4 linked regions of the Homo sapiens genome follow. The protein of the gene in region 1 interacts with the protein of each later gene in a pairwise test. Each region holds a gene or a part of one and is shown on either strand. Other genes may lie near its edges. The genes, in order: USP54, VENTX, TOLLIP and STK16.

Region 1 (7,433 bases):
ATAATGATGCTATAATTAGAAGCCCAAATGTGTGGCCCCTATCTCCCTCTCTTCTTTAGAGTCCATTTATATGAGAAATATAGAGATTTCTTGTATGATTTTGCTGCTCAGGTCTGTGATTAACAGCCAAAGTTTCTCCAAAATGTATTCTTTGGATCAGTTTTTTTCTCTTCCCTCTACCCTTTCTGCAATATTCCTCTTCTCAGTAATGCATACTTGAGTGAAACAACCAGCTCTTTAAGGTACACATGCTCTGCCAACATTGTGAATAAATCTCAGAATAAAAACTAGAGTCACCTCTGATTGCACAGGGATTGCACCTGTGACTAGCCACTGCACTCCAGCCTGGGCAACATAGTGAGACTCTGTCTTTAAAAGAAAACACCAGTGGGGCTTGGTGGCTCACGCCTGTAATCCCAGCACTTTGGGAGGCTGAGGTGGGTGGATCACCTGAGGTCAGGAGTTTGAGACCAGCCTCGCCAACATGGTGAAACTCCATCTCTACTCAAAATACAAAAATTAGCCAGGTGTGGTGGTGTGCACCTGTAATCCCAGCTACTCTGGAGGCTGAGGTAGGAGAATCACTTGAACCCGGGAGGCAGAGATTGCAGTGAGCTGAGATTATGGCACTATACTCCAGCCTGGGTGACAGAGTGAGACTCTGTCTTCAAACAAAACCAAGATTAAAAAAAAAAAGTTAAAAAAAAACCCACTAGACTCAAATTAGTTATGTAGTTTTCCCTGTTTTTCATCTACTTCATGGTATATTCTTCCTTACAACCTAGAGTCAAAGGCTAGAATATTTTCTCTTAGGTTCCTTATTAGCTAAGATCAAGTCCGTCTCTAATTTTTGTTTGCTAGAACTCCAGTTTAACAGCTCTGAATTAAGCTTCCCCTCTCCCCAGGATCAAATGATAAAGGCTTTCATTTGATATAAAGCAGTCTCTTCCCCACCCCTCCCCACCCCAATCCTCCAGTTTATTTAAAAGTCTCAGCCTAGGTAACATACTAAGACCCTGTCTCCAAAAATCTTTAAAAAATTAGCTGGGTCTGGTTGTACACACCTGTAGTCCCAGCTACTCGGGAGGCTGAGGGTAGAAGATTGCATGAACCCAGGAATTTGAGGGTTCAGTGAGCTGTGATCACACCACTGCATCCAGCCTGGGCAACAGAGGAAGAACCTGTCTCTTAAAAAGTTCCCAAATTTTGTCACTACATTCTAAAATCTAGAGTCTTTTATTGGCTGGGCACAGTGGCTCACACCTGTAATCCCAGCACTTTGAGAGGCTGAGTCAGGTGGATCACTTGAGGTCAGGAGTTCGAGACCAGTCTGGCCAACATGGTGAAGCCCCATCTCTACTAAAAATACAAAAACTAGCTGGGTGTAGTGGCACCTACCTGTAATCCCAGCTACTGAAGAGGCTGAAGCAGGAGAATCACTTGAACCTGGGAAGTGGAGGTTGCAGTGAACCGAGATCGTGTCACTGCACTCCAGCCTGGGTGACAGAGCAAGACTTGGACTCAAAAAAAAAAAGAGTCTTTTATTTTCCAATCTCGTGTTCCTACTGCGGAGCCACTCAGTTCCTGCCTTTACTGCCGACATCAGCATTATCATTAGCATCTCAGAAATAAAAGACAATGATGGTTTGACTTTGGGGTTACTCCAGAGGGAGTTATTTTGGTTTTTCTTAGAGAAATCCTCTGTTTCTCTTTTATGACTTTTAAGAGAAGCAAAATGTTCTTTCAATGCATTGAACATTCTGTTGTACCTTACTCTATTTGCTAGTAGAAACCAATAATGAAAAGCTACGGAATGTGACCAAATAGGACTTTTCAGCCTGTGCTTTTCCATTACCCTCCCCACTACCCTCCAAGGATTTTTCTTGATTGATTTACTCAAATCCTAAATATTGTTTCTCCTTGCTAATAATATTTATATTTTTTCAGAGACCTTTGTCTATTCTGGTCTAAGGTGGACCTATTGTGGTGTTACATATTCCCTGCAAAGTACTTGAAAAATATGACTTGTTAAGTTTTGTTGAAGCACAGTTTTACAAAGTACTGTTGTAACTAGTCATCCAACTTTAGAATACCTGAACATTTAAACTAAAACCCTATTTTAAAAAATAATAATCTGAAACACTATGTATCACTCTCCCTCTTGACGTAGTTAGCAATCATGTACCCAAAACCTTTTCTTTCTATTTTTATTTTTCCTTTTTTTTTTTTTTTTTTGAGACAGGGTCTTGCTCTGTGGCCCAGACTGGAGTGCAGCGACACAATCACTGCTCACTGGGGCCTTGACCTCCTGGGCTCAAGGGATCCTCCCACCTCAGCCTGGAGTAACTGGGACCAGAGAGGTGCGTGCCACCACACCAGGCTAATTAAAAACTTTCTTTCTTTCTTTTTTTTTTTTGTAGAGAAGGGGCCTCCCTGTGTTGCCCAGGCTGGTCTTGAACTCCTGGGCTCAAATGATCCTCCCGCAATGGCCTCCCAAAATGCTGGGATTACAGGCGTGAGCCCCTGCACCCGGCCTATAAAACCTTTTCTACAGGCAGTTTGACACTCACCTAACAAAAACTTGTAGTTACCCAATTTATTTTGAATGGCGAAGCCCAGTGGTTGATACAGGGTTCTCTTTCTATTTGGCACAGAACCTCTTGTGCAGTCTTGAAGAGGGAATAAGAAATGTCTGAAAATAACTTATGCAAGGCAGAATGTGAGTATCATAGCAGAGTTTTATGGGAGGTGTTTTCTGAGGGGCCTCTGGAGAGATTACAATCTATTAGAGTGAGATTTCCCTGTGGATCACTTCCCTTACCTGGATGAGACATGAAAAGTAATGTTGTCTAGTTGTAATCAGGGTTGAAGCTCTGTAACTCTGTCCCAGTACTCTAGTTTTATTTGATTAGTTTCACAATGAATATATACCTATATTTTAATGACTTGATTGAAGAGCTTGGTCTTGATGTTTGTATGTCTTTATTTGCAGTCAGCACTTATCAGTAGAAATTTTGTGTTTCACACTTTGAAATGGCATTACTACCTCCTCCTCCACCTAGCACCACTAGGAGACCTGAGTTAGAATGCTAATGGTTAACAAGAAAAGCAACAGTATCTTTTTTTTTTTTTTTTTTTTTGTGGCACTTTCCTTGTGGCCAAAGGACTACTTCAATTTAATATACTGTATTGTTAAAATGTAAGAGCTTAATTAGTTTTGGACATTGCCCATGTTTGTTAAATTTTACCAATAAATCTTAATTACATCTTTTTTTTAGTCAACTCGTATATTTTCTCTCAACCTATAGAAACACAACAGACCTTCATATTTGGCAAGGATTCTGCTGATGAGTTTTTTTCATCAGTATGCTTATAAAACAACTTCTTTCAATAAAACTGTTTTATAACCTCAGGTAATACATAGAAGGGTGTGTGTTGGTCCTCTGGGGCCTTTGTGCCCTGCCTGCAAATGCAAGTTCTCGGTTGACTGATCACATGTTTGGGGGTGGGACTCTGCCTGCTGTTTGTTCTTGGTGATGTAACTAGGTCTCTTCCCCGAGAGAGGGGTGGAGATCTTTCCCTGTTGTGGACTTTGGGGTTGAGAACCCTTAGATCCCAAGCATTTTAAAATTGACTCAGTAGATTCCAATGGCTCAGTTTAAATAATAATTTTCTTTAATAGTGTGGCTCGTTTAAGACAGTTGGAGGAGTTTTGCCTATTAAAATGATTTGATTTAATTTAAGCCCAGTCTTGGAATTCTGAATTAGGGATTCCAACAATAACATTGTTTTGATTATTCTGTAAACAACTACAAAAATGTTGTCTTCTCGTGCTCCTTTTGACTGCAGTGCAAAGGAATTTTTTTGTGGGGGACTGGCCCTTCTTTGGAAGCAGCAGCCACCCTGCAAACCTTATTGTTTAATGACCTTTGTCATCAGGAATGCCCCAGGAAACAGCTTCATAATTGTTTTTCTTAAGCCTCAGGTGAAGTTTGTGATAACGTCCTTTCAAGTTACTTTTGGTTAGTTTCTTAAGTTTACTTTGTTTTTAATTGGAAGCTCCACCTTTTTAACTTTGTCATGAATTGTCAGTGCTGAGTTCCTGGTAGTTGGTAAAAAGAATTGCCTTCTCTCTGATATCCTGTTCTGCGGGAAGTCCTTGTGGTTTAGATTCACAGTTTCTCATTGTTGCTAGCTACAGTCGTCTCCTCCCTCCTAGCCTTCCCTCCCCACAGCTCTAGCTATTCCCATATCCCTCCCCATTCTTGTATCACTTGCCCCACAGATACCCTCGTGATTAGAGGTCTTTTGCTGGAGGTTGACTGTGCTGTCTGGTAAGTATTGTAGTTGTTGTGGTAAAAACAGATAGATAGAAGATTCAGGAACCGGTTAGTTTTTGTGAAGTTTTCTTTCTTTTAAAAAAAATATTCCCAAGCACTGATTAATAAGCTATTTCTTTTAATAGCAGTAGATTAAACTTTGAAATTGAGATTTTAGGACTCTCAACTTTCAAGAGGCATCTTTCAAGCTGTTGTTTGTGCTCTTTCCCCCTCCTCTCTGTTACAATTATTAGATTTTGGAGATTTCATATTTTTTCCAAAAAAAAAAAATTCATAGATTTTCTTGAGTTCCTTAGAATTAAAGGCAAGAATTGTGGATTTAGTATTTTAAATTTCCTTCAAACAGAAGAAGGTTATTTGTGATTTCTTTATACCTATTTTCAGTATTAACATACTGGTTAAAGTAGTAATGAAGAAAAAAGAGCCTATTTTGTGGCTAAATTGGAAAGTAGCTGAATGATTCTTTTTTCCTATCAGCAGAATAGTGTTGGCAAAATCCACTAAGATTTTGGCAATATGTTGTCAATTCTAAGAGATGGTTTGCCAAGTACTTCAGGTTAACAGATGCTTCTGGGAATGATTTTTGGGAAGTTAGATAAATTTGTTCATTAGCACCTGCTTCCTTGAGGCATGAGGCCTATGATCCTTTTGAAAGTAAAATATTTAATATTTGATATTTAGATTGAGTCAAATATCACTTTCATAATGGGCTATTTCCTTGCGTTTTGTGTTTTGAGCTTCTAAGAATATTTGTGTGTGTATTAAAAAAAAATTTTTTTTTGGATACTGGATGGTTGATACTTTGGTATTTCAAGCAGTTATAAGTGATGAGCTTTGGATTCTCCCAAACTACTGCTAGTTAGAAGTCATCTTTATGGTAGATGATGTGAGAGGAAACTTGTTTCTGGGATTTCATTGCTGTTCAGTTGAGGCACTTATTCAAATGATGGTTGTATTCGTACAGTAATGATTTCTTGAGCTCCTAATATGAGGTAAGTGCTGGGTCCTTGCTAAGTGCTTTGCATTTACTTCTAATTCCCAGTACAACCTGGCCAGGTAGTAGTATTGTCCCTCTACAAAGCGGCTATACATAGGTAGAAAGAACATGGGTTTTCTTTCCTGCAAAGTGAGAAAAATAATCACTATTTGGCAGGTTAATTGTGAGAATTAGAGGATATACCATGTGTCCAGTGCCTAGCGCAGTGCCAAACATGTAGTTTGTATTCACTAAGTGGGCTACCATTATTATAATTTTACACCTGATGAAAGAGGATAAGTAATCTGCTGAAGGTCACTCAATTGTAAGTGGTAGAGCTAGGATGTGAACTGGCTCAAAGTGTGAAGTCTGGTAGCATGTTTTCATTTGAGTATTGTAAAGGCTGTTAGAGTAGATTTCATTCCTTCTCATCCCTTCACCTCCTGCCCCTACAGAGGAAATCTTCTTTATAGATATTCTCCTTTCTTTGGTATCCTCTGTCGCCCTCCCAGTCAGTCATGTGCTTGCTCTCTCACACTGGAGTTGCTTGTGCCATTCAGTACCAGTGTTCTCCCAACAGAAATGAGTCAAGCCAGTGCTGTCAGTTTGCTTCCCCTCCTTTTTTCCTCTTGTTGATAGCACTGTCATACTTTCATTATTGTTTGTACTGAAATAATTTGAGTACGGGTATATTTATAATGATTAATAAATAATGCATTGATGGAATCAAGTGTTTAAAAAGTCTTAGTGATTCATAAAATTCGGGATAAAAATCTCTGGTTCTAAATGATTAAATCAGAAGGTTATTATATAGGGTAACTTTCTGGAACTCATTGTTTTGCTATCCAGGGGCCTAATAAATTGCTATTGATTTTTGTTCCTTTAACCACTGCTATTACTAGTTTGCTACTATTGGCAGTAGGGTTTAGAAAGAACATTTCGTTTGTCCTACTGACCATAAAATAGAGTATCTTTCTTCTGTAGACCTTTTGGAAGCGCAAGGTATGATTTAGATGCGATATGATTTTGGCAGGAGATTCAGGGACAAGCTAAAGAGCTGTTTGGTTATGCCTGTAACTGAGTTATCTCTAAACGGAAAAATGTGAGTTTGATTGGTCTCATGAAACTTAGTTCTTCATTTATTTGTTTAACAAGGAATGAGCATTTGTTGAGTGTAAGGCAATGTAACTTTCTACCTTGTATTCTAATAAAGTATTGATATACTGGTTAAATATTGATTCATGATGTTCCTGGGAGGGAGAGAGAAGTCCCAGTTGGTGTGGAGAGGTATTTAAAAAGACAATCATTTGGGAAATGAATTAATGTAAATGACTGCTCCTTCCTGCTGATGTATGACTATTAGTAGTTCCTATCACTGTAAGTAGCCAGTGGTATGACTTCTTCAAATAGGTTTGCTCAGTGGAAAAGATTGCTAGTATTAGGTAGGACTGGGAAGATGGGAGGAGCATTCGTTGATTGAGAAATACAAAAAACAAAGTAACTGGGCATGTGCACAGAACAAATCTTTTTGTATGTTTTAAGGGTAGATGAGGTTGGAAATGTGCAGGGGATAAGATTGTGGAAGGCCATTCAAAGCCAGAGTTTTGGCTGTATTTTGTCACTGAAGTTTTCTAAGCTAATTGTGATTCATCAGTTTGCTTTTGCAATATTGTATAGATGGGATTAGAGAGGAAAGAATAGTTAGAAAGTTTCTGCAATAGTCTGGGTGAATTGTATTGAGAATGCACTGGTTTTAGAATACATTTTTCCCAGGCTGGGCGCGGTGGCTCACGCCTGTAATCGCAGCACTTTGGGAGGCTGAGGTGGGCGGATCGCTTGAGGTCAGGAGTTTGAGACCAGCCTGGCCAACATGGTGAAACCCCATCTTTACTAAAAATACAAAAATTAGCTGGGCGTGGTGGCACACACCTGTAATCCCAGCCACTATGGATGGAGGCTGAGACAGGAGAATTGCTTGAGTCTGCGAGGCGGAGGTTGCGGTGAGCCAAGATCACGCCACTGTACTCCAGCCTGGGTGACTGCGAGACTCCGTCTCAAAAAACAAAAACAAAAACAAAAAACAACAACAACAAAGGATACATTTAAGAAAAAAAAAA
Region 2 (8,193 bases), about 60 Mb from region 1:
GGACGCTGTGGCTCACGCCTGTAATCCTAACACTTTGGGAGGCTGAGGTGGGTGGATTGCCTGAGCTCGCTCAGGAGTTCGAGACCAGCCTGGGCAACATGGTGAAACCCCATCTCTACTAAAAATACAAAAATTAGCCGGGTGTGGTGGCGGGTGCCTGTAGTCCCAGTTACTCGGGAGGCTGAGGCAGGAGAAGTGCTGAACCCAGGAGGCGGAGGTTGCAGTGAGCCAAGATTGCGCCACTGCACACCAGCCTGGGCAACAGAGACTCTGTCTCAAAAAACAAAAAAACACTCTGAAGGCAGACGCGGTGGCTCACGCCTGTAATCCCAGGTCTTTGGGAGGCCAGAGGCGGGCAGATCACAAACGAGGTCAGGAGTTTGAGACCAGCCTAACCAACATGGTAAAACCCCATCTCTACTAAAAATGCAAAAATTAGGCATGGTGGCGTGAGCCTGTAATCCCAGCTACTCGGGAGGCTGAGGCAGGAGGAGGCAGGAGAATCGCTTGAACCTGGGAAGTGGAGGTTGTGCACTGCACTCCAGCCTGGGTGACAGAGCGAGACTCCGTCTCAAAAAAAAAAAAAAAAAATAGACACCCTAGGCCAGGCTAGGTGGCTCACGCCTATAATATCAACACTTTGGGAGGCCTGGGCGGAAAGATCACTTTGAGCTCAGGCATTCCAAACCAGCATGGGCAACATGGTGAGACCCCGTCTCACATCAGCTCCACCCTGCTGTGTTTCCTGAGAATCTTCAAGCTGCTAAAAGCCTGTTGGATGAGCCAAGCTTGCAAACATTCCCCCTCACATACACAGCCCCCAAAGGTCAGAGTCACAGGCTGAGGCCACAGTGGGGTCTGAAACAGAGCTTAGGTGCACCCTACATGACCCTGTCGCTCCAGAAGGTTACTGCTGACAGCAAGCCCAGGTCCAGACAGCCACATCCCAGCAAACACACCAGCACCCTAAGGGTGGGGGCTGTGCCGCTCTATCACTCGGGTTACTGGACACTCGGCCCTGGAGGAAGGACCCATCTCTGGGCTGGAGCAATTTAGGGGCACCAAGCAGAATTAATCTGCCTTCCTACTCAGGTAGTGGGGCAGGGGCCACGTGCTATGATCCTCCTGAGCCCGGTATCAGAATAATGAATCTGAATACATGGGCCCCGGACCTCTAATGCTTTCTAATCTGGTGCAGAGAGTGTATTTTGGCTGTTTAAATCAATCTAGGGGCCAGATGCGGTGGCTCATGCCTGTAATACCAGCACTTTGGGAGGCTGAGGCAGGAGAATTACTTGAGCTCAGGAGTTTGAGACCAGCCTGGCCAACATGATAAAATCCCATCTCTACAAAATACACAAAAATTAACTGGACATGGTGGCACGCACCTGCAGTCCCAGCTTCACTGGAGGCTCAGGCAGGAGGATCACTTGGGCCCTGGAGATCGAGGCTGCAGTGAGCTGTGATCACATGAGGCGCTCCGGCCTGGGCAACAGTGAAAGCCTGTCTCCAAAATAAGTAAGGCGCTCTGTAGGCATGGCAGGATTAGCCTCCTGTGTGCTGTTTAATGGGGCCAGTGTCTGAGCACAGTTGGTTTAGCGTTACCTTTTTTTTTTTAGATGGAGTCTGGCTCTTGTTGCCCAGGCTGGAGTGCAATGGTGCGATCTTGGCTCACCACAACCTCCGCCTCCTGGATTCAAGCGATTCTCCTGTCTCAGCCTCCCGAATAGCTGGGATTACAGGCATGTATCACCACGCCTGGCTAATTTTGTATTTTAGTAGAGACAGGGTTTCACCATGCTGGTCAGGCTGGTCTCGAACTCCCAATCTCAGGTGACCCGACCACCTTGGCCTCCCGAAGTGCTGGGATTACAGGCGTGAGCTACCGCACCTGGCCGGCTTAGCGTTTCTTTATCGGCCATGCACCAGACCAGCCCCACTTCCTAGTGGACGTGTCGGGGAGCGGGGAACATGGGGGAGTCGGGGAGCGGGGAGTGTGGGGGAGTCGGGGAGGGGAGCGTGGGGGTGTCAGGGAAGGGGGCGTGGGGTGTCGGTGAGGGGGGCATGGAGGTGTCGGGGAGGGGGGCGTGGAGGTGTTGGGGAGCGGGGATCGTGGGGCGTCGGGGAAGGGGGCACGTGGGATGTCAGGGAGGCCGAGGCCACAGGGGTGGGTGTTGGGGAGGGGTTGGGGAATCTCTACAAACTTTTTTTAAAGTCTGGTTAATTGACGTGTAATTCACATACAGTAAAACTCACCATTTGTAGTGTACGGTTCTACGAATTTGTAAAAATACATATAGTTGTGCAACCAAAACCACAATTGAGTTACGGAACATTTCCATAACAACAAGAAACTTTTTTTGTGTCCCTTTATAGTCACCTGCTCCCTGACTCCCAGCCCTGGCAACCATTGATCTATTTTCTGTTCCTATAGTTTCGCTTTTTCTAGAGGGCCATATGAATGGAATCATACAATGTGCAGCCTTTTCAGCCGAGTCTCACTCTGTCGCCCAGGCTGGAGTGCAGGGGCACGATCTCGGCTCACTGCAACCTCCATCTCCCAGGTTCAAGAGATTCTCCTGCCTCAGCCTCCTGAGTAGCTGGCCTCCCCCTCAGGTGGTCCCAGAGTGCTCGGAGGAGGCTCGGGCGAGTCGCGACGGGGCCGGCAGCACGCGCTGGGCCCGGTGTCTGTCCTCAGGCCCTGGACTCGGGGGGAGCGCGTTTCGGGGACTAGCTGGACTCCGGGCTGTGCGTGGGGGCGGTGCTGTCGGCCTGGGAGTGACGCGGGACTTCCTGCCCAGCGCAACCCGGCCTGGCCCCCGAGGGTGGGGGACAGGGCGACGCCCGCGGGGACCACGCTCTGGGGCGTGCGGGGCGCAATTCACGGGGCTGGGCTGCCCCAGGGGCTGGGAGGAAGGAGGCAGGGGGGCGCCCAAGTCTCCTACCCATGGCAGCGCATCAGGGCGCGTCCCAGAGCCGGGGGTGGACGGAGGCTTGGAGGCGGAGGCTTTGGGGACCCCCAAGCCTGGGCTAGAGCAGCCTCGGCGGGCTCTAGAGGGAGGGTGGAGGGAGGGGCCCGGGCTGCAGGAGGCGGGGAGGCCTGAGCCACGGTGGTGGGGCCGCTGGGCAGGAGAGAGGGGCTGCCTGACCCTGCCGTGTGAAGGTGAGGTTGTCTTCGGGCTTGGGGGGATCGGAGGGGGCGGTTCAGGTGGAGGTGGTGGCGGGGGGCTGGGAAACCGGCAGGAGGGGCTCTATGTAGAGCTGGGGGTGGGGGTGCTGAACCACGTACAGAAGGGGGCTGAGACACCGGGGCCCTGGGCCCCGGAAATTAGAAATGGAGAAATGGAAGGCTGGGTGCTGGCGTTTCGGAAATGCATGCTCGTGGTGTTCCTCTTTATGTAAGGGAAGCTTCTGGGCCTTTTCCCTGCCTGTCGAACGTTCTGTATGTTTTTGCGGGATGTGTGAGGTGTGCTGTCTTGCTCCACTTTGAGGCACCGCCCCCACTGCGGGAGTGCTGGGGACCTGCCCCATGGGGCATCCTCGGGGCCAGCCCTGTGGCCACAGGCATCTGGGCCCTCGCTGCCCCTGGCCGGGACACACTGCCGGTCCTGTGCAGTGGCTCAAAGCCCCTCTACCGGGGGTGACCCGGTCTCTCCGGAGATGAAGTGCAGCGGGGGTCTAGGCCGGCTTCCTGGCCCCCCACCCCTCCTGGCTTTACCCCCGAGGCCACGTCCAAAGCCCCCAGCGCCCCACCCCCGCCAGCCTCCCCCTTGAGGGCCCAGTGACCTAACTGGGCCGGCAGGGTCCGAGGAAGACCAGGGTCAGCGGCGGCACGGTCCGTTCCGCGACCCCTCTCCTGTGACCCCAGGTAGGCCGCCGATCGGTTCCCGGCTGAGGTCCCGCCCCAGCGCCCGCCTCCCGGGCTCCAACCTCTTTGCTCAGCCCGGGAGGCTCGGCTGGCTGGGGCGGGCGTAACCGTGGGGCGAGGCCCGCCGGTCTTTCTGATTTCCGCGGGCGGCGTGGGCGCTGAGGCAGCCGCGGTCAGGACCTGGCCGGGAGTCGGGGCTGCTCCGTGGACCCCGCGTCTGCGCCGAAACCCCGCATGGCTTCGGGGGCCGGACCTGCGCCTCCGCCTAACTCCGGCCGCCGGAGACGCCGTGCGGACCCCAAGCCAGTGCGCGGAAGACACCGTCCTACCCTCGGCATGGCTGCCTCCCACCCGGTCACGTCGGTCCCCGCGCCCCACGCCGACGCGCAGGCGACCCGGGGACGCGGAGACGCAGACAGCTCGGGACTCAGGTTCGTGGGAGCAGCGGCCGCGCGTGGCTATGACCGTCCCGGGGGCCCGTGCTCAGGGCGTCCCCGTGAGGTTTGGGCGCCACAGTCACCGGCGGCTCTGCCCGCGCCCTGGCCACAGTGGGGACAGCCTGGCTTGGCGGGGACGCACCAGTCCCGCCGCCGACGCGGAGTTCCTACCCCGCCGTGCGAGGCAGTGGCTCCGGCCCTTCCAGCTCGGGATGGAGTCAGGGAGCCGCCCGCGCCCGAATGCAGAGGCTCCTGCGATGGCCCCGGAGTGAGTCCCCCAGAGGAGCCGGATTAGGGCTGGAGGCGGCCGAGTCCCCCGAGAGGCCCCTCCCGACATTCCCGCCCCCGCGCGCCGCTCCCCGGGTCCTCCGCGTCTCTTTCCCGGGAAAGCCTCCCTCGGTTCCTGCGCGGCCGCACAGCCTGGACGCAGCGCACGCGGGCACCGGCCTGACTCTCCCACCCCGAAGCCTGCTCCCAACCTAAGTCCGCCCTGACTCTCCCAGCCTGAAGCCTGCTCGCCCTCGGGTGTCCGGGCTGGGCACAGGCGCCAGCGTCCCCCTGGAGAGGAGAGGTCGCCCGGCACCTCCCAGGACAGGCCCAAGTGGGAGTGGGACCCTCCTACCTTCCTGCAGCCTCGGCCCGCGGGGTGGGGGGTTGGGAGAGATGAAAGGAGGTGACCGATCCCGAACCATCGCCTCTCCATTAACCAGGGCCCGCAGCCCCGCCCCTCCCCCAGACATCGAGGAGCCGGGGAGGTGTGAACGGCCTCCTTTGTGCCTCTGAATCGAAGGCAATTAGGCGCTGCTTATCTGGGCATTAGCCGTGTATGCAAACCGGGCTCCCGCCCCCTCCTCCTGGGCTTATAAACGCCGCCGCCTGGCGAGGCCCGAGGTGGATCCTGCGCCTGGCCAGCCCCGCCTGGCCTTCCCTCCGGCCCACCTGGCCGCCATGCGCCTCTCCTCCTCCCCACCTCGTGGCCCGCAGCAGCTCTCCAGCTTTGGCTCCGTGGACTGGCTCTCCCAGAGCAGCTGCTCAGGGCCGACCCACACCCCCAGGCCTGCCGACTTCTCCCTGGGGAGCCTCCCTGGCCCAGGCCAGACATCCGGCGCCCGGGAGCCCCCTCAGGCCGTCAGCATCAAGGAGGCCGCCGGGTCCTCAAATCTGCCTGCGCCGGAGAGGACCATGGCCGGTAGGTCCGGGTGGGGGGGGTCCCTTCCTTCCCAGGTGGAGATGGGAGTGGGGGAGAGGCCAGGAGCCCGGCGGCTGCACTCCCCGCGGTGCCCTGCCCACTAGGTCAGGGCCGGGGGCGTTTCCATGAGGGCCGGCGGAGGCCTTGCCGGCGCCCTCACTGGAGCGCAGCTTCCCTCGGAACCAAAGCCTTGACGGGGATTTCCTCTCCTTGAGCCCCCGGTGGGCTCCTCTGCCTCCTTTTGTCACCCCGTTCCTCAGCTGTGTCTTCGTCCCCCACCCCGGCCTGGTGCCGAGGGACCGTCCAAGGGGTCCCCGTCCGCACCTCCCTGCCCTGATTCCGGGCGCTCACTGAAAGTCTCGATGATTTGCCAAGCCCCCCGCCCCCGCCCCCCAGCACAGCCGGTGCCTGCTCAGCGTCTAGGCTCAAGCCCATTCCGGGTCACCTGGAGCACAGCTGTCTTTAAAGAGCCTGCAGGTTCGCTGCAGGGGTGGCGGTGACCCCGATGCCTGCAGAAACTCTGAAGTTCCCTCTGTGGCCGCCCAGATGCTCTGTTGTCTGCTGAGAACAAAGGTTCTCTGCGTTTGTGTTTTAGTCTTTGTGACATCATCACCACTTTTAGGTTTAAGGTAGTACTTGGTCAAAAGTGGGGTTGACATCATCTACAAGTTTTCATTTTTAAAAATTTGACTGATCCTTATGGAGTGACTTTGTACTTAAGGGAAATGAAAATTTAAATGTATTCTCCCCAGCTAGCTATCCTGCCCCACCCCAAAAAAGCCAGCCATCCCTGTCCCGCAACCCCCTTTCTGATGCCAGTCCTACAGCCCTCCCTGCCAGAAGGCATTTGCTTTTTGGGTCTACCATGTGCTTTCAGGCTAACGTTAAGACAGATTTTGTAAAATACGCTTCCTTCCGCAGAAACTCCAGCGAGCATTTTGGTCAGACTTGCATTTAATGTCGAGCTCGATTGGCCACGTTGGCCTTTCCTGGGACCCAGACCCAGCTCCACAGACCACCTCGTGGGGCCGTTTGGTGCCAGCCCCCATTCCTTAACTTAGAAATTAGGAAACAGACTTGACCACAGTGGGCCTGGGGATTAACTGAGTTGGCCTCCGCTGGCTGAGGAGACGGAGCCCGGGACAGGGATGGGTGCCCCTGGGTGGGTCGCCAGGCCTTTGCATATAATGGATTCTTACCTTACCGGCCTGGAAGGCTGTGGGAAGGGCATCCTGGGAACCGGCTTCTGGAAGGGAAGTGTGGGATGGGGCGGAACTGAGTGGACTGAGCGGAGGGCAGGCCCAAGCTGCTGTTAACATTCCCTCCCCTCTTGAGCCCCCTCTCTGAGCCCCCTTTCCGCATGTGACCTGGGAGGCGGCGGGGGTGCTGCTGGTCACTGTCAGGTGAGAAGATCTGCCCTGCCCAGCCCCCAGCATGGCTGTCTTCACCTGTTACCCGTGGGCACGAGCTTGCCCCATGGGGTGGCATGTTGAGCCAAATGCCCTTACCCTCTATGTCAGGGTTGAGTAAGGAGCCAAATACCTTGCGGGCCCCCCGTGTCCGCACAGCCTTCACCATGGAGCAGGTCCGCACCTTGGAGGGCGTCTTCCAGCACCACCAGTACCTGAGCCCTCTGGAGCGGAAGAGGCTGGCCAGGGAGATGCAGCTCTCAGAGGTCCAGGTGAGGTGGGCCGGGCAGGCTGGGGTGGGCAGGGGTGGGCAAGGGTGGGCTGGTGGCCTAGTCTCACCCCTGTTCTGATCTTGCTTTTCCTACAGATAAAAACCTGGTTTCAGAATCGCCGCATGAAACACAAACGGCAAATGCAGGACCCCCAGCTGCACAGCCCCTTCTCGGGGTCTCTCCATGCGCCCCCAGCTTTCTACTCAACGTCTTCTGGCCTTGCCAATGGCCTGCAGCTGCTGTGCCCTTGGGCACCCCTGTCCGGGCCCCAGGCTCTGATGCTGCCCCCTGGCTCCTTCTGGGGTCTCTGCCAAGTGGCACAAGAGGCCCTGGCATCTGCGGGAGCTTCCTGCTGCGGGCAGCCTCTGGCGTCCCACCCCCCTACCCCAGGCCGGCCTTCGCTGGGACCAGCCCTGTCCACGGGGCCCCGGGGCCTGTGTGCTATGCCACAGACGGGGGATGCATTTTGAGGAGGCACCTCTGACTCCCACACTCGCGGTCTTGCTGATCGCACCTGGCTCCTACCTGGAGGACTCAGTTGTTCTGTTTACATCCTGGTGGCACCTCTCACCCTGACCCACACAAAGGTTCTGGAGATTACTGGAGAATATATATAAATATATATATGTACGTATATATGTAAATACACATATACGTATATATAAATATATATATACATATGTGTGTGTATATATATATATATTTTTTTTTTTTTTTTTTTTTTTGAGACGGAGTGTTGCTCTGTCACCCAGGCTGGAGTGCAATGACGCAATCTCGGCTCACTGCAACCTCCGCCTCCTGGGTTCAAGCGATTCTCCAGCCTCAGCCTCCCGAGTAGCTGGGATTACAGACACCCGCCACCACGCCCGGCTAATTTTTTCTATTTTTAGTAGAAATGGGGTTTCACCATGTTAGCCAGGCTGGTCTCAAACTCCTGACCCTGTGATCCGCCCGCCTCGGCCTCCCAAAGTGCTGGGATTACAGGCATGAGCCACTGCACCCGGCCCTGAGAATATAT
Region 3 (7,569 bases), on another chromosome or scaffold:
AATGGTCACATAAAAATATATGCTTTACCCTGGTTCAAAGGCTTGGAAATATGAAAACAAAAATGATTACTCCCGATACATAATGGATATTTTTCTAGAATTTTGCTTCCATGTACAAGATGCACATACTGAGTTCAACACTAACAAGTCTAAATGCCCGTGTGAAGGCCAACAATTCCACTTCAGGAGCCAGTCCCCTGTCAATGCTCACTCGGGCACGTGAGCACAGGATGCCTGAGGCTGCGTCACCTGTGCCGTCAAAACGCCCCGTCCACCAGCCAGGCACATCCACCCAGCGCATCGCCACGCGGCCTCACCAGGAGCCGGCGGTCCCTGCCGCGAACACATGGAGACTCGGGGGACGGAGGCGGAGGCGGAGGTGCGGCACGACCTGCTGCAGGGAGCCATAAGGAGGCCTCTGTCGACACCAACTCTGGAGGAGCATTCAGGAATGGAACTCGAGGGAAACAGGCAGGGAAGATTCTATTTCAATTTATTTATACTTTTATATCCTGCTAGTTATTTTTAGAAACTTTTTAAAAACATTCGTGAATTACTTTTAAAATAAAAAGGACAGGGTAGGGCTCTCATCCCACAGAGCTCACAGCATTTTATCTTCTCTGAAAATAAAAGCTACTTTTATAAATATTAGTCTGTTTTAAATATAGTTTTAAAATGTAACTTCAAATTTCTTGGAATTGCTGATTCTCCTCCCCCATGTGCCGCTCTCAGAGGATCACGACGCAAGCCTGTGACTGACGACCATTCCTCCCTCACTGACGCCAGAGCTCTAAACCACTGCAGCGTACCTTTCCACACGAAAGAAAAGAGGTCTCCAACATTCACTTCTATTTAAAACAATTTCTCTTCAAGTCTAAGTTTTAGTTTTGGCACAGAAATAAAGTCTTAATTCTTCTTTTTTGTCATGCAATGTGTGTAGTCAATCCAAAGCTAATTTTTCTTTTTAAGCACACAAATTAAACACCCACTGTGAATATTCCTGTTGGTGACACGTCTCCAACGGAGAGAGCCGCTGCTTCCTTGGGCCACACTTTCTGCCCGACACCTGTTAGGAATACGTTTCCGACTGAGAGTGCCGCTGCTTCCTTGGGCCACACTTTCTGCCTTGACAGAGCCCCGGAAGAGCCCAGCTCAGCCCAGGACGTGGAGTCCTGAACACATGCAGTCCTGGCCTCACGCCTGCCAGGAGACATCACCCCAAGGAGCCGCACCACAGTCGCCCCTGAAGCACGGCTGGCCACACGCAGGCGGCAGGAGACCAGGGTTTCCTGGCCACTTCCATGACTGGCCCCCTGCGGAGCCTTTTTAAACCTTCTCACCGTTCCCACCCCATGACGCTGCGAGGCTGTGGAGGTGCTGTTTGTGTCTGTGTGCCACGCATGCACCTGCACTTGGCATGTAAACACTGCAAGCAAGGCTCAACGAGTCTCAGCGCTAACGCCAGGTTAGCATAACTAAGTCGAACGAAGTTCAATTAAAAACTAAAATGCTTCTAGCACTTCATGACTATGCGCTGAGCAGCGCTGAGTGTAATTTATTTACATAAATTGTAATGTATCAAATCACACGTAGAAATAAACAACTTATATAAACACAATAAAAAATATCCTTAGTGAACTGAAGCTTTTGCTTGATGTGAGAAAGTACCTTTTAACTGGCTGGCTGGTATTCTTTCAGCAAACTGACATCATTAGCGATGGGCTAAATACGTTCTGTGGAATTAAATCACAAAATGTCGACGATTCTCATTCAATTCTCCAAGCCAGAGTCTCACACCAGCACTGAGGATCCCACACAAACGGCATCCGCAGGCGCCTGCCCACCCTCCCCACCCACCTCACAGCAGGTCTGAGATCGCACATGTGTCGCGGGCTTCCGAGAACTCCGTATCCATGTGCTGGGACACCCAGAAAACCCAGGGACAATGAAATACTAAGGAGCAAGAAATCCAGGAGCTGTGCTGGGGAGGCACACACGGCCGCCAAACCCCAGAAGTTTCCTCCCCCAAGAACCCCTTGTGCCCTCTCAGGGTCAATATCACCCCCACATTGAGAACAAGCGTCAAGGACTCCTGAAGCCACAAAGCCAGCCCACGGAGGCCCCAACACAGAAGCCCAACTAGTGAAACTCTGTACCCTGAGCCCTAGGTTTCTCCAGTTCCTAACATGGCCATGATTCAACGTGACTTTCAGAGCTGGGACCCACAGCAGGAAGACCTGGGCTGGGCTCGTGGCTAAAGGGACAGAGGAAGCTAATGAAACAGAGAGAAATAAATCCCCCGTAGTAGGAACATCTAGGGATATGGGCGGAAGTCAGTCTCAAAGCCTCTTGGGCGAGGTCTGAGTGTCTGCTAGGAAGGGAGCCCCAGACTCGGTCAGGGCCCCAGGACTCACATAGAACAGCACAGTTGGTCCAGATGAAGCTGAGAACCTGGAGCCCAGGTCATCACCAGCCTCCCTGCTGTGTCTGAGGGGCTGGCCCTGCCTTGAAGGCCCTGCAAGGGGCCTGCTCCAGGCCACTGTCCTACAGGGGATGTCTGCTGCTAGGTTCACACCCAGGTCAGAGCTCAGTCTGGCCCAGGAGAAATGGCCCATCCACCCGATGCCCGCACACCTGTGTGATTCACATCCAGATCCGGGCGTGCAAGAGGGCGGGAACGCGCACCAGGGCTGAGACACAGGGCCGTGGGCAGTCAGGACAGACCCTGGGTGGCCCTGGCGGTCCCTCTGCCCAGCTGACTGACCCCTCAGTGCGCAGGGTTTCAGAGACTGAAGTGCCAGCCTGCACATGCCCCAGGCCTGCACACTCACGGCCAAGAGGGGAGCCCCGTGGAGGTGAAGGACTCACCGACACTCACTGGTGGCCACTGCCATTGCCCTGTAAGTTTAGCATTTTCCAAAATAAGGCTAGAAGGAAAACTGCAATTCCCCATGCCCACTCAGCTGCTGGCTCCCTCACCCACCACCCTTCACAGCACCAGCATCCAAAAGCTGGACCAGTACCTGACCCTGCAGCCCCTGGCACTCCAGCCAGCCTCGGCCTCACGCTCCACACCAGCCTCCTGACACTCCCCAAAACCCACTCCAGCCAGCCTCGGCCTCATGCTCCACGCCAGTCTCCTGGCACTGGCATGTTCAATAAACAACCCTTGAGCAAATAAGTGGCATTTCATGCAACTGCTCTTGGCAAGGCAGCTCCCACGCCAGTGTGGACGGGCAGTGGTGACTTTGTCCCCAGTTCCCACATCCTCCTCCCACGGCCGCTCAGCAGCCCCCTCCCAGGAGCCCTCGCTGAGCACTCATTCGCCGTGCCTTGTCTCCCCTTCCGGGGCCTTCCTCAGACAGGGCTTTCCTTCCCTCTTCCTATCACCCCCTCCCCTCTTCCTTTAATTATACAAAACACAACAGGCGCTTCAAAGCCAACATGCCGGGAGGTTCCCTGGCTCTGCTAAAGTCTCAAAGCAAACACTAGAATTTGTGTAAGGGAAGCTGGGAGATGACAGTATTGAAACGAACCCGTGTAAGCTGAAGAGCGGTGAAAGGGAAGAGTACAGGACAGAATGAGAATAAGCATAGATTATAAAAGCTGACTACAGAACAAGCGACTTTAAATGGGGTCTCTGCCAGGAACTCCACTGCAGGCAGCCTTGCATCCTAAGTGCTGGGACGGTCAAGCAAGGCAGAGGCGGAAAACCCCTTCTCATTCAGATGAAACAAAAGCCAGTCAAGCAGCAGGCCAAGGGCGGACAGAGATCCAGAGAGGGACGGCATGTGACGTGGCAGGCCCTGGGCGCCGGGCACAGGGCGCGCGCTGCGGCAGCCTCTGCGTGTCACTGTGTGCCTGAGGCTTCCATGGTGAGGTGCTGGGGCACCCCTGCTCCTGGGATGCTTACACGTGAGTGGAAGAAGACAAACGGGAAGCATCATGAGTTATGCTGTATGCTAACGGCAGGAGGCGCTGTGCAAAGAAACAGGGCAAGGCCGGGTGGCAGGGGCACGCTGCACTTCCCACAGGGCAGCAAGGCAGGCCTCACCAGCACGGTGCCAGGGCAGGGCCCGCAGGATCTGGAGACAGTGACTCAGGGACAGGAAACACTTGCACAGCAGGCCTAACCAGGGGCCTGTCGGGCAGGTCAAGGGACAGTGTTAGAGGCCCAGATGAACAGAGGTTAGGGCCGGGTGCAGTGGCTCACGCCTGTAATCCCAAAACTTTGGGAGGCTGAGGTGGGCGGATCACTTGAGACCAGGAGTTCGAGAACAGCCTGGCCAACATGGTGAAACCCCATCTCTACTAAAAATACAAAAATTAGCTGGGCGTGGTGGTGGACGCCTGTAATCCCAGCTACTCGGGAGTCTGAGGCAGGAAAATCGCTTGAACCTGGGAGGAAGAGGTTGCAGTGAGTTGAGATTGTGCCACTGCACTCCAGCCTGGGCTACAGAGCGAGCCTCCATGTAAAAAAAAAAAAAAAAAAAAAGACCTCAAGTGAACTGGGAGGCAGGCCAGAAGCAGCGTATTCAGAAGGCAGCAAACAGAGGGCCAAAAACGAAGGAAAGCCGGAGGAAGGGACATCCACTCCCGGGCTGCTCAGCAGCCACTCCAGGAGCCAGGAGAGGGCGGGGTCCCACCTTCGAGGCACTGAGGACAAGTGACCGTCCACCGGGAGTACTGTCCACCTGGAGTACCGCCCACCTGGAGTTCCACACACACAAAAATAGCTGTCAGGACACAGAGAAAAGGCATGTACAAGCAAAAATCAAGTTTGCCAGCAAGGAAAATTCTAGATGAACCTGAAGCTAAAGGAAAGTGACCCCAAATGGAAGGCCCGAGACACCAGAAGGGATAAGAAAAGAGAAACACAGAAGGAAATCTAAACAAGCGCTGACTCGAGAGAAGTAACACATTCCTGCGGGAGCCCCAAGGGGAGGTAGCACCCACACAAGGCACAGCAGCACCCGCGCCAGGACGGGGCGGCCGAGGTCTCCGCGTGGATCCGGAGGTGGCACAGACAATGATTAACTTCTTCTTTATTTATTCTTTAGCCGGGCAGCCTCCGGAGCCAGAGTTCACTCAGAGACTCCCTCATGGCAGAAGCTGATAAGTGCATGTTACCATTTCCAGGGGAGCCCCTGTACTTTCCCAGCACAGTGTGTATGTACTTGAGATAAAACAACTGAATTTTTTAAAACTCCATTTAATAAATTCAAAAGGCAATGAGAGAAAAAAAATAAGAAAATGTAGGACAAATAAAAGCACCAAAGAAAACATGTAAAAAATCTGTAAATCTGTGTATCCATCTAGGCATCTCTTAACTAGAAAGATGAAACTAGCGCATTCCCATCAAAAGACTTAGTCTTCTTAGATTTGACTTTTTAAAAATCCAGCTACGTGCTATCGATGGTGCACGTGTCTTAAACAAAAGTTTTCAGAAAAATGTAAAATCATAGAAGGAAAAAGTACTAGGTGAATACTCTCTAAAAGACAGCTGGGGTGGCCATGCCAGTATCAGACAAAATAATCAAAGGCAAGAGGCCTTTATCTTCCAAGAGGCCCGTGGGTCCCCACACAGTGAAAAGATGTGATTTCCAGGCAAGCACAGCAATTCCACACCTGTACAGACTCACAACCCGGCCTAAAAAATCCAGCGCAAAGGTTCACAGGAACCCAGAGAGAAAGGACTCGTGAGGAGGCGGTGAGTGCGTTCCCCGCTGGCTCAGGTGCAGTCAGCAGGAACGGACGCCCTCCCAGGAGCAGCCCACCAGAGCCAGCGGAGACGGGTAAGTGCCACTGGCTCAGACACACAGGATGCAGGAAAATCCACGGGCTCTTCACAACACTCAGGGGAGAGAAAGCCCACACACATCTACAAAGAAAAGCAACTCTCTCCTTGAGGTACGGGAAGATGAGGGAAAAGCATCTCACTTGCCTTTCTTTCACGAATTGTGTTTCAGGACAGCCAGCCGACACCGGTTGATGGGGAAAGCTAATCTTTACAAACAATCCCAGTTAATAAACACCGAAGAAGTGATAAAGTTCAGAAACTACCCTCTGCCATCCCTAATGAAGTCACCGATTCGGCAGGAATTATCAACGATGTGAAGAGTGAGGGGACCTGGACAGGAACAGGCCTCTCAGGGAGGAAGGGAGGGGCCAGGCCGCCTCCAGCTGGACTCCATGGCCAACCAGCACCTCCAGAAGCAGGACAAGGAGTCAGAGCAGCCTGGACACGGCACAGCGCACCCACCTCTACCAAGGAGGCCTCTCTGACGGCACCGCGGTGGCTGCAGCGGAGTCTCCCGCAAACGTCCCGAGATCTCACTGCAGAAGGCAGGGGTCCACACGGTACTCCTCGATACTCCTCGCGGGGGCCCGCACGGTACCCCTCGCAGGGGCCCCCATGATACTCCTCACAGGGGTCCACACAGTACCCCTCGCAGGGGCCCCCACGGTACCCCTCGCAGGGGTCCACATGGTACTCCTTGCAGGTACTCACCCATGCTTTCTGATAATATGCAGACTATATTGAAAAAAGGTTATCTTTCCAAAATACTGGCCTTTTTGAAACGTGAGGGAAGCACTGCACAGGGCTGAAGCATCCCTTAGTGGCTATTCAGGGAACCATTATCCTGAAGATCTAAACACGGTATGATTCTCTCAGAACGATGTCGGGCTGGCTAGCTTCACACGTCCTCTCCACACCTACCCACCCGGGCCCCTGAAGCTCCCTCTACCCAAGGACAAAAGAACCCTCCCAGGACCCCATTAGCGGCCCCTCTGCTCCTTCACGGCCCATGGGATCTTGCCGTCTCCCCTTATCACTAGGGGGAGGCAACGGCTAGACCACAGTCAGGGTCTCCCGAGCCAGAGTCCTGCCCCCGGACCCTGGGGAGCATCTCTTTCTGCTGGAAAGCTGAGCGAGCGCCCTGCTTAACCTCCTGCCTCTCTGGCACCACAGGTGTAACAGAAAGAGGACATGATAAATACTGTGTCAAGACATCCTGCAAAAGCAGGGCTCCTCTAGGTGCTAGTAACTGGGTAAAGGCCCACTATGGGTTAATTCAGAGGGGCTGGGGTGGGTCATGCTCAGCGAAGCAGGCTGGTGCCAAGGCGGGCCCTGCCTTGCGTGTGCCAGGCAACACTTTACAGAGTGCTGCGCTGAGCCGGTAAACTCCAGGGCAAGTCCAGTCCTCCTGTGCCCAGGACCCTCCGGCGGCCTCCAGCTCCTGCCTCCCTCCATCCTCGGCCCCTGGGGCTCCCTCCTCTCCACCTCCAGACCCCACACCTCTCTTTCCGTGCCCTGCCCTCCCAGCCCAACCCCTACTCCCATTCCTCCTCCGAGAGATGTCACGTCCTCACCCCAACACCCAGCCCTGGTGAGGCCCATTTACAAACTCTCCCAGCACCTGACGCTTAAGATCACAGACCCACCGGGCCGTCACCACACAGCTCAGCTGTCCTTATGTGCTGCCATGTCTACCGTGCTGCCCTGGAAGACCCCAGTGGCAGGAACCACCTGGTTGTCCCCTGCATCATGGCCATCCTGAACGCCAC
Region 4 (8,478 bases), on another chromosome or scaffold:
TGACCCCGCTACCCCCAAGTGTAAGAGAAGTCCTGGATGGAATGGGTGGTGATTCCAATGAGGGATGGGAACCTCTTTCCAAGGCACAAGGGGCCATCTTCTCAACATGCTGCTTTTTCAGATTTGGGTAGTATGTTGGCCAGGAGCTGGGGGCTGAAGCGCCTCCAGCTGACTGAGGAGGAGAGGAATGTGAGGACGCTGATGCGGGTCCACGGTCATCATCGAGTTCAGGAGCTGCCGCAATGCTGAAGAATGCCTGTGGAGGGAGGAGCCCAGGGTGACCGGATGACACCTATCTGTCAACTCAGCTAATACCAGGGGGGAGTCTGAAACACTTGATGCCCTATTCGTTGCTCACTCACCTGGGGCTTTGTGGGATGCTGAGTTGGTTCTGCACAGCAAGGGCCACACTGTCACCCTTTTGGAACACCATGTCATAAGGGCCTTCCCCAAACATCATGGCATATAGCACGCAGCCTAGGGACTGAGCATAACTTGATTAGTCCCTAGAAGGGGACCAGTGGAGGTGACATCTCTCCCTTTACTTCTGTGGTAAAAGGAGACTCCATAAGCTAAAAAGAATACGCTGACCTCAGCCACATGGCACCACCAGGGTCCAGAGAAACTGCCAGTCAGCTGGAGGCCTCCGCAGCCCCTGTTTAGCTTAGCCCCTGCTTAGCCAGTGCCTTCACTACTGACACTGAGCTGTACTCACCTTGTTCAGGGGCACAGATTATACCACATCCGGTACAACTGGGTACAGTATCAGTGACATTTCCCAGGAAGGAAGTTGAAGTGGATGGGGACATATTGTGGTTCCTGGCGCCCCATGCAACAGAAACCAACAACCTACTCTACTCCACGGTGGGTACAGAGCCACAGCCCTCCCTACCCAGATACCCACCCACATGCTCCTCACCCAGACATCAGTCCGCTCATCGATGACACAGTGACTCTGCACAGAGAAGAGCTCTGGGGCTCGGTAGGAGATGGTGCACCGCTGGGCTGCCCAGTCCTGGAACAGTGATCCCAGAGCTCAAAAGTGGGGCACAGGTCATGGTCATGTGACCAAACTGGGACATGCACCAGAAGGGGTGGGAATGGGGAACAGGTGAGAAAAGGAACCTGGAGACTCTTTTACCTGCAGGGTCAGAGCCTGGCGGGAGCCCTCCACATGGATGCATGCTTGATTCATGGAACCCAAGTCCATTAAAACTGGCTGCCCCTCATCTCCAAGCAATATATTGGTGGGCTTCAAGTCTCTGTAGAGAAGTAGAAGTGACCTATGAGCATCTCTGGACAGGAAGGCTGGAATCCCAGCAAGCAAAAGAATCATACAGGCTGTTTCTTGGGAGAACAGAGACCTCCCATGTCTCCTGGTGAGGCTCTTCCTCTGGGCCCCAGCAAGCACACAGGGTCCTCCCACTGACCTGTGGGCATAACCCTTGGCATGAATGGCCTCAAGGCCTCTGCAGATCCCCAGCAGCAGCCAAAGGATTTGATCCTCGGTCAGGAAGTTGCCTTTGTCCTTCAGCCTTTCTATCTCATTCCACAGCGTACCTCTCTGCAACACAAGTTTCCCTACAGTTGGAGATGTTTTTGGAGCCTCTGCTCCTTAGGCCTGATCCCTTCCCTATGTCAAAGCCTATCAGCCCTTTCATGATACACACCTCAAACTCAAAATCTAAAGTGGCCAAACCCAGGACATGGTCCCTGCTTCCTAACATGCTGGACTGCTCACACAGCCCTTGAGTAGGTGGCTCTGCTGCAACCCCCTCCATAACCAGGAGTCTTTCTGACCTTGAAGAATGGTAGCAGCAGCCAGGCCTCATGCTTAGCACCCCGTTCCCTCAGACAGTAAGCCACGAGGCGAAGGATGTTGGGGTGATTGAAGAGGCGATGCATGTCGGCTTCTCGCTGGGCCTCCTCCCGGTCCTGCTGCTCGTGACACAGGATTCGCTTCAGGGCGTAGAAGTGTCCATCATGTAACCCTTCCACTAGGTCCACATAGCTGAACCCACTGTGGGCCAAAGGGGTCAATAAAGGGCCATGGTCATCTCCCACATGGCTTGGACCTAGAGAAATTTCCTGGTGGGGAGTGGGGTGTCCTTCCCATTTAGCAGAAACCTTCCCAAGATGTGGCTCTAAGAGAAATCTGAAGAATATTACACCGTGAGCTCCTCAGGAGCAGAGATATAGAAATCTTTGAGGTCCTATGGTCGTAATAGAGACCTCTGCACTTGACAGATGCTAAATAAATAATAGCCAACACTTATCAAGTACTTGTCAACCCCGCATTGGGTGAGACATTTTATACACATTATCTCATTTAATCCTCACAACTCCATCAGTGAGGGATAATAATCATCTCCATTAAGCTGATGAAAAAAACATGGTTTATCAAGGTCACACGAGGTGGATTTAGCAGGCCTGGCTCCAGAATCCACCTTCTTGATACTGTGTAGCTAGGTTCTGTCAGGTGAGAGAGGACAGGGATAGGGATAAAACCCTTGTGCCCCAAGCATATGCACACCGCTGTCCTTCAATGATCATAAACTTGAGGACTAGTTAACTGACTTCCAAACACTCACCCCTCCCCCAGTTTCTGGATGAAGAGGTAGCGCTTATTGTCAATGATGACAGTTCCCCGAGAGCAGACACACAGCGCGTGGCCCATAATGTCTCAGTCATCCTCTTCAAGGACGGTCTGAGGCTACCGAAGAGCTCGTCCAGGGTGAGTGGGCTCTTCCAGGAGATGCGCTGGGGGCCCAGCGGATCATGCTGGAAAGAAAACAACGGCAGGGTCACAGGTCCGGCACAATCCAGACGACCCATGAAGTACCAATGCGGAGAGCTCAGGCCCAGGTCTCTGGAACCTACACTATAGTGTAGAGAAAACAGGCCCTGCTCCGTCGCCAGCTTCAGGGGTGGGGTCAGGCGCCTTACGGCCTCAGGACACACAGCGGCTACCGGGCCACTTCCTCCAACCCCAGCCCATCTTTGGGCAGCCCCCGCTCCCACGCCCATCGCGCCGCAAAAGCAGAGCATAGCGTAGTTTCAGAGGACGTGCGAGGCTCAGGCCCACTCCTGGCAGGGCCCACCCCGGTCTAGGAGCCCAGAGCCCGGGATGGGCCATCTGCACTGCCGGACTGACCTGGCTCGGGCCAGAGAGAAGCGCCACCGACCGGAAGCAGTGCTGACATCATCAGTCCGCGCCGGCGTAACGGCCCGCGGTATCTCAGCAACCGCTGGGCATCCGGAGGATGTGGGGACGCGGAGCTGAGAGGCTCCGGGCTAGCTAGGTGTAGGGGTGGACGGGTCCCAGGACCCTGGTGAGGGTTCTCTACTTGGCCTTCGGTGGGGGTCAAGACGCAGGCACCTACGCCAAAGGGGAGCAAAGCCGGGCTCGGCCCGAGGCCCCCAGGACCTCCATCTCCCAATGTTGGAGGTAGGAGGCTTCATACCTCTGGCGCTCTGGGGCAGAAAGCGGCCAACTACACTGCAGCCTGGAGGGGGATCCAGTGAGGGGCGGGTCTGGTGGCCTGGTCTCCTGATCCCGTACAACCTTCTGGGCTCTGGCCTGTATCCCACTACCCCTAGTCTCAGTGGTTAAGAGCTCAGGCTTGTGAACCAGACTTCCAGTTTCTAAATTGAGTGTTAATAGCATGCTAGCTGTGTAACCTCGGGCAAGTTACTTAACCTCTCGGATCCTTACTTTTGGTAGCTGTAAAATAGGTATAATAGTACATAAGGTTAAGTAGCTTAACTGTGAGGCCAGACTGACTAGTTCAAATGACAGCTCCGTTAACGTAGTTGTGTGACCTTGGACAGGCTACTTAATGTTTCTGTCCTTTCCTCTCCTCCTCTGTAAAATGGAAATAATTATCTACCTCATGGAGTTGAAGATTAAATGAGATGTACAGTGTTTAATACAATATCTGACACATAGCCTTCAGTACGTGTCAATAAACCGTAATTATTATTACCCTGATCTTCACATCCCATTCTTGAGACTGTAAAGGCAAAAGGAACGGAAATTCACAGATTTTCGAGCTTTGGCACAAAGCAGTTGTCCTTAATATCTGTTGCGGAGGCAGGCAGGGGTAAGCTGGAGAGGGGTGCACTTCCAAAGAAGGTGGAATGGCCAGGAGGGAATGGCTGTTTTGCTGAAACAGGACTCTCCAGGAAAGAGGTCCTTCTTGTGACCTGGTTCCTCCCTTCCACACCCCGGATCACCCTGAAGATTTTCCAATGGTTTCCCCTGGTTCTGAACCTGTTTTAGCCTTTTGGTTATGACATTGATTCATCCAGATTTAACCTACTATATACCCGGCCCTGTGCTAGAGGCTGAGGATTTGAGATGAACAGGGCACTCCCTGTCCTCAGGGAGCCCAGTCAAGTAAAGCCATGCTTCTCAATTTTGAAGGTGCCTAGGATCACCTGGGAATCTTGTTAAAATACAAATTCTGATTCTATAGGTCTGAGGTAGGATCTGAGATTTTACATTTCTTTTGTTTGTTTGTTTGTGTTTTTTGAGACAGAGTCTCGCTCTGTTGCCCAGGCTGGAGTGCAGTGGCAGGATCTCGGTTCACTGCAACCTCCGCCTTCCGGGTTCAAGCAATTCTCCTGCCTCAGCCCCTACCCCCACCCCCACCCCCACCCCCACCCCCACCCTCGGAGTAGCTTGGAATACAGGCGCGTGCCACCAGGCCCGGCTAATTTTTGTATTTTTAGTAGAGACAGGGTTTTGCCCTGTTGGCCAAGCTGGTCTTGAACTCCTGACCTCAAGTGATCCACCCGCCTCGGCCTCCCAAAGTGTTGGGATTACAGGCGTGAGCCATCGTGCCCAGCCAGATTCTCCATTTCTAACAAGTTCCCAGGTGATGTCGATGAAGCTGGTTCGTGAACTGCACTTTAACATGATGTAGAAATTTTACAAACTAGTAGAGTAAGGGGGTGGCTGCAGGCTGGAGAGGAAGTCCAGGCTAAACGCCTGGCAACTTGAGGTGGTTTCCGCCCCCTTGCTCGCTGAGGTTCCCTCCCAGGAATCCGACACGTGACGGTCTGTCCGCCGTCTCAGACTAGAGGAGCGCTGTAAACGCCATGGCTCCCAAGAAGCTGTCCTGCCTTCGTTCCCTGCTGCTGCCGCTCAGCCTGACGCTACTGCTGCCCCAGGTAAGATGAGACGGTGAACCAGCCTGCCGGGTGCGGTGAGCGGGATCAGATCCAGCGGATGAGAGAAAGTCCAAAGTAACAACCAAACAACCCGCAGGGCTAGTTCCATCTCTTCCGCTCTTGGCAGGCGCTGACCCTCGACGCTCCCTCCAGGCGTCTGCTGAGCAGCGTCTCTTTCTCTTTATAGGCAGACACTCGGTCGTTCGTAGTGGATAGGGGTCATGACCGGTTTCTCCTAGACGGGGCCCCGTTCCGCTATGTGTCTGGCAGCCTGCACTACTTTCGGGTACCGCGGGTGCTTTGGGCCGACCGGCTTTTGAAGATGCGATGGAGCGGCCTCAACGCCATACAGTTGTAAGAAGTGCTCGCAAGAGCCGCGGAGGGATGGGATCTACTTTTTCTACCGCCCCCTTATAAAGAAGGTCGGGACAGGAAGACTGCCAGGACTCCTAGGCCAAGGGTGGGAAAGGGCAGGCCAGGACCTCCTTCCAACCGCTTCCTGGAGATTCCCTGCAAGGCCTGAGCCGTTAGGCCTCCCTGGCGTCTCTTCACCTTGGTTCCTATTAACCTCTTCCTTTCTCAGTTATGTGCCCTGGAACTACCACGAGCCACAGCCTGGGGTCTATAACTTTAATGGCAGCCGGGACCTCATTGCCTTTCTGAATGAGGCAGCTCTAGCGAACCTGTTGGTCATACTGAGACCAGGACCTTACATCTGTGCAGAGTGGGAGATGGTGAGTTAGCTGGAGAAGGGATAGAACCAGTTATCCTTGTGCAGTTCCTAGACTACTCCCATCTGCCCACACTCTAGGGCCATCTCCAGCACTATATTCAATTCCTTCCCTTCCTTCCTTCCCTTCCTAGCTTCCCCACCACACCCCAAAACAAAACCTACATGCTTCTTTGTTCTCTTTATGTTTGTCTCAGGGGGGTCTCCCATCCTGGTTGCTTCGAAAACCTGAAATTCATCTAAGAACCTCAGATCCAGGTGAGTTGAGACAAAGGATTTAACACAGAAGCAAGTAAGTAAAATGGGCTATTTGGGTGCCAAAAGCAGAAGAGACCATTCCCAAATTGGAGGTCATCATTCATTTACCAAGTGTTTCCTTCATGCCCAGCAGGATGCTAGAAACTGGGGGACCAGACAGACCCCCATCCTTGTGCCGTAAAGCTTATAATATAGTGGAAGAAACTGATTAAAAAAAAAAAAAACAGCTGGGCGCGGTGGCTCATGCCTGTGATCCCAGCACTTTCAGAGGCCCAGGCGGGTGCATGACCTGAGGTCAGGAGTTTGAGACCCACCTGGCCAACATGGCAAAATCCCATCTCTACTAAAAATACAAAAAATTGGCTGGGCGAGGTGGTGGGCACCTGTAATCCCAGCTACTTGGGAGGCTGATGCAGGAGAATCACTTGGGCCCGGGGGTCAGAGGTTGCAGTGAGCCGAGATTGAACAACTACACTCCAGCCTGGGTGACAGATTGAAGAGACTTTGTCTCAAAAAAGAGAAAATCCTATCAGCTGTATCTTGACAAACATTAAATTTAAGTGCTTTTTATCACCCCCATTGCCCCCACCCTGGTCCAAACCATCTCTCTCAGCTGGCTTATTTTATAGCTTCCTAACTGGTTTCCCTTGTTTGCCCTCTCCCCCATACAATCTGTTCTCAGTAGAGTAGCCAGTGTGATCCTGTTCAAGTATAAGTTTAAAGATACATCTCAGATCTTGTCATTTCTCTGCTTAAACCTCTCTAGTAGGTTCTCATCTCATTCAGAATATGAACCATAAATTCCTTAAAGTGGTAGGTCCTACACAATTGGCCCCAGTCACCTCCTCGACATTATTGCTCTTCTCCCCCATGTTCACTCTGCTCCAGCCACAGTGGCCTCATTGCTGTTCTTCAGACCCACCAGGCCTTGGGCTTTGAGGCCTTTGCATGTGGTGCTCCTTCATCACAAGCCTCCTGCAGAAGTCACCTTGGTGAGGCCTTCCTGGTCTCTCTCTCGCTCTCTCTATACATACATATATATGTATGTATATATATATATATATATATATACACACACACACACACACACACACACACACATATATATATATTATTTTTATTTTGTTTTATTTTTGAGATGGAGTCTCGCTCTATCACCCAGGCTGGAGTGCAGTGGCGCAATCTCGGCTCACTGCAAGCTCCACCTCCCAGGTTCACGCCATTCTCCTGCCTCAGCCTCCTGAGTAGCTGGGACTACAGGTGCCCACCAACACACCCGGCTATTTTTTGTATTTTTAGTAGAGATGGGGTTTCACTGTGTTAGCCAGGATGGTCTCGATCTCCTGACCTCGTGATCTGCCAGCCTTGGCCTCCCAAAGTGCTGGGATTACAGGTGTGAGCCGCCGCACCCGGCATAATTGTTATTTTTTTTTGAGACGGAGTCTTGCTCTGTTGCCCAGGCTGGAGTGCAGTCACGTGACCTTGGCTCACTGCAACCTCCGATTGGGTTCAAGTGATTCTCCTGCCTCAGCCTCCCGAGTAATTGGGATTGCAGGCACCTACCACCTTGCCCGGCTAATTTTTTGTATTTTTAGTAGAGACAGGTTTTTGCCATGTTGGCCATGAGGGTCTCAAACTCCTGACCTCAGGTCATCCACCCCTGCCTTGGCCTCAGAAAGTGCTGGGATTACAGGCGTGAGCCACCACACCCGGCCATCCCCTCTATATTTTAGTCTCCCCATATACCACCATTTTTGTTTGTTTGTTTTGAGATGGAGTTTTGCTCTTGTTGCCCAGGCTGGAGTGCAGTGGTGCAGTCTCGGCTCACTGCAACCTCTGCCTCCCGGGTTCAAGCGATTCTCCTGTCTCAGCCTCCTGAGTAGCTGGGATTACAGGCACCCGCCACCATGCCCAGCTAATTTTTTTGTATTTTTAGTAGAGACAGTGTTTCACCATGTTGGCCAGGATGGTCTCAATCTCTTGACCTCGTGATCTGCCTGCCTCCGCCTCCCAAAGTGCTGGGATTACAGGCGTGAGCCGCCACGCCCGGCCCATTTGTTTTTAAGAAACACTATTTTAAGGTTTCCTATGTTCAAATTTCATTGGCGTGCAAATATACAAGGTGCTTAGGGTTGGGAATTTCTTGACAAGAGTCATTGCTTCCCATATTTAGTGGTGAGCAAGTGTGATGGTAGCACCTAACACAGAAGCTCTGCTCCTTCCTTTAGACTTCCTTGCCGCAGTGGACTCCTGGTTCAAGGTCTTGCTGCCCAAGATATATCCATGGCTTTATCACAATGGGGGCAACATCATTA

The links.
Region 2: the proteins of USP54 (region 1) and VENTX interact in binary tests that used the Homo sapiens proteins (3 or more experiments, as listed by UniProt).
Region 3: the proteins of USP54 (region 1) and TOLLIP interact in binary tests that used the Homo sapiens proteins (3 or more experiments, as listed by UniProt).
Region 4: the proteins of USP54 (region 1) and STK16 interact in binary tests that used the Homo sapiens proteins (3 or more experiments, as listed by UniProt).

Annotation. Positions count from the first base shown.
Region 1 is NC_000010.11:73,588,179-73,595,611, reverse strand, and holds the start of USP54 (ubiquitin carboxyl-terminal hydrolase 54), read left to right. Parts: upstream 1-4,269; 5' UTR 4,270-4,334; intron 4,335-7,433.
Region 2 is NC_000010.11:133,232,662-133,240,854, forward strand, and holds the start of VENTX (homeobox protein VENTX), read left to right. Parts: upstream 1-5,193; 5' UTR 5,194-5,253; coding exon 5,254-5,494; intron 5,495-7,014; coding exon 7,015-7,175; intron 7,176-7,270; coding exon 7,271-7,645; 3' UTR 7,646-8,193. UniProt on the Homo sapiens protein: May be involved in ventralization.
Region 3 is NC_000011.10:1,299,561-1,307,129, forward strand, and holds part of TOLLIP (toll-interacting protein), read right to left. Parts: intron 3,231-7,569; exon of another isoform or gene 3,024-3,230; intron 453-3,023; exon of another isoform or gene 318-452; intron 1-317. UniProt on the Homo sapiens protein: Component of the signaling pathway of IL-1 and Toll-like receptors. Inhibits cell activation by microbial products. Recruits IRAK1 to the IL-1 receptor complex. Inhibits IRAK1 phosphorylation and kinase activity.
Region 4 is NC_000002.12:219,240,199-219,248,676, reverse strand, and holds the start of STK16 (serine/threonine-protein kinase 16), read right to left. Parts: upstream 3,199-8,478; 5' UTR 2,881-3,198; intron 2,782-2,880; 5' UTR 2,678-2,781; coding exon 2,592-2,677; intron 2,021-2,591; coding exon 1,801-2,020; intron 1,565-1,800; coding exon 1,431-1,564; intron 1,263-1,430; coding exon 1,142-1,262; intron 1,016-1,141; coding exon 920-1,015; intron 485-919; coding exon 363-484; intron 257-362; coding exon 118-256; 3' UTR 1-117. Other genes in the region: GLB1L (beta-galactosidase-1-like protein isoform 1 precursor), read left to right, coding at 5,104-5,175, 5,363-5,529, 5,759-5,909, 6,103-6,163, 8,392-8,478. UniProt on the Homo sapiens protein: Membrane-associated protein kinase that phosphorylates on serine and threonine residues. In vitro substrates include DRG1, ENO1 and EIF4EBP1. Also autophosphorylates. May be involved in secretory vesicle trafficking or intracellular signaling.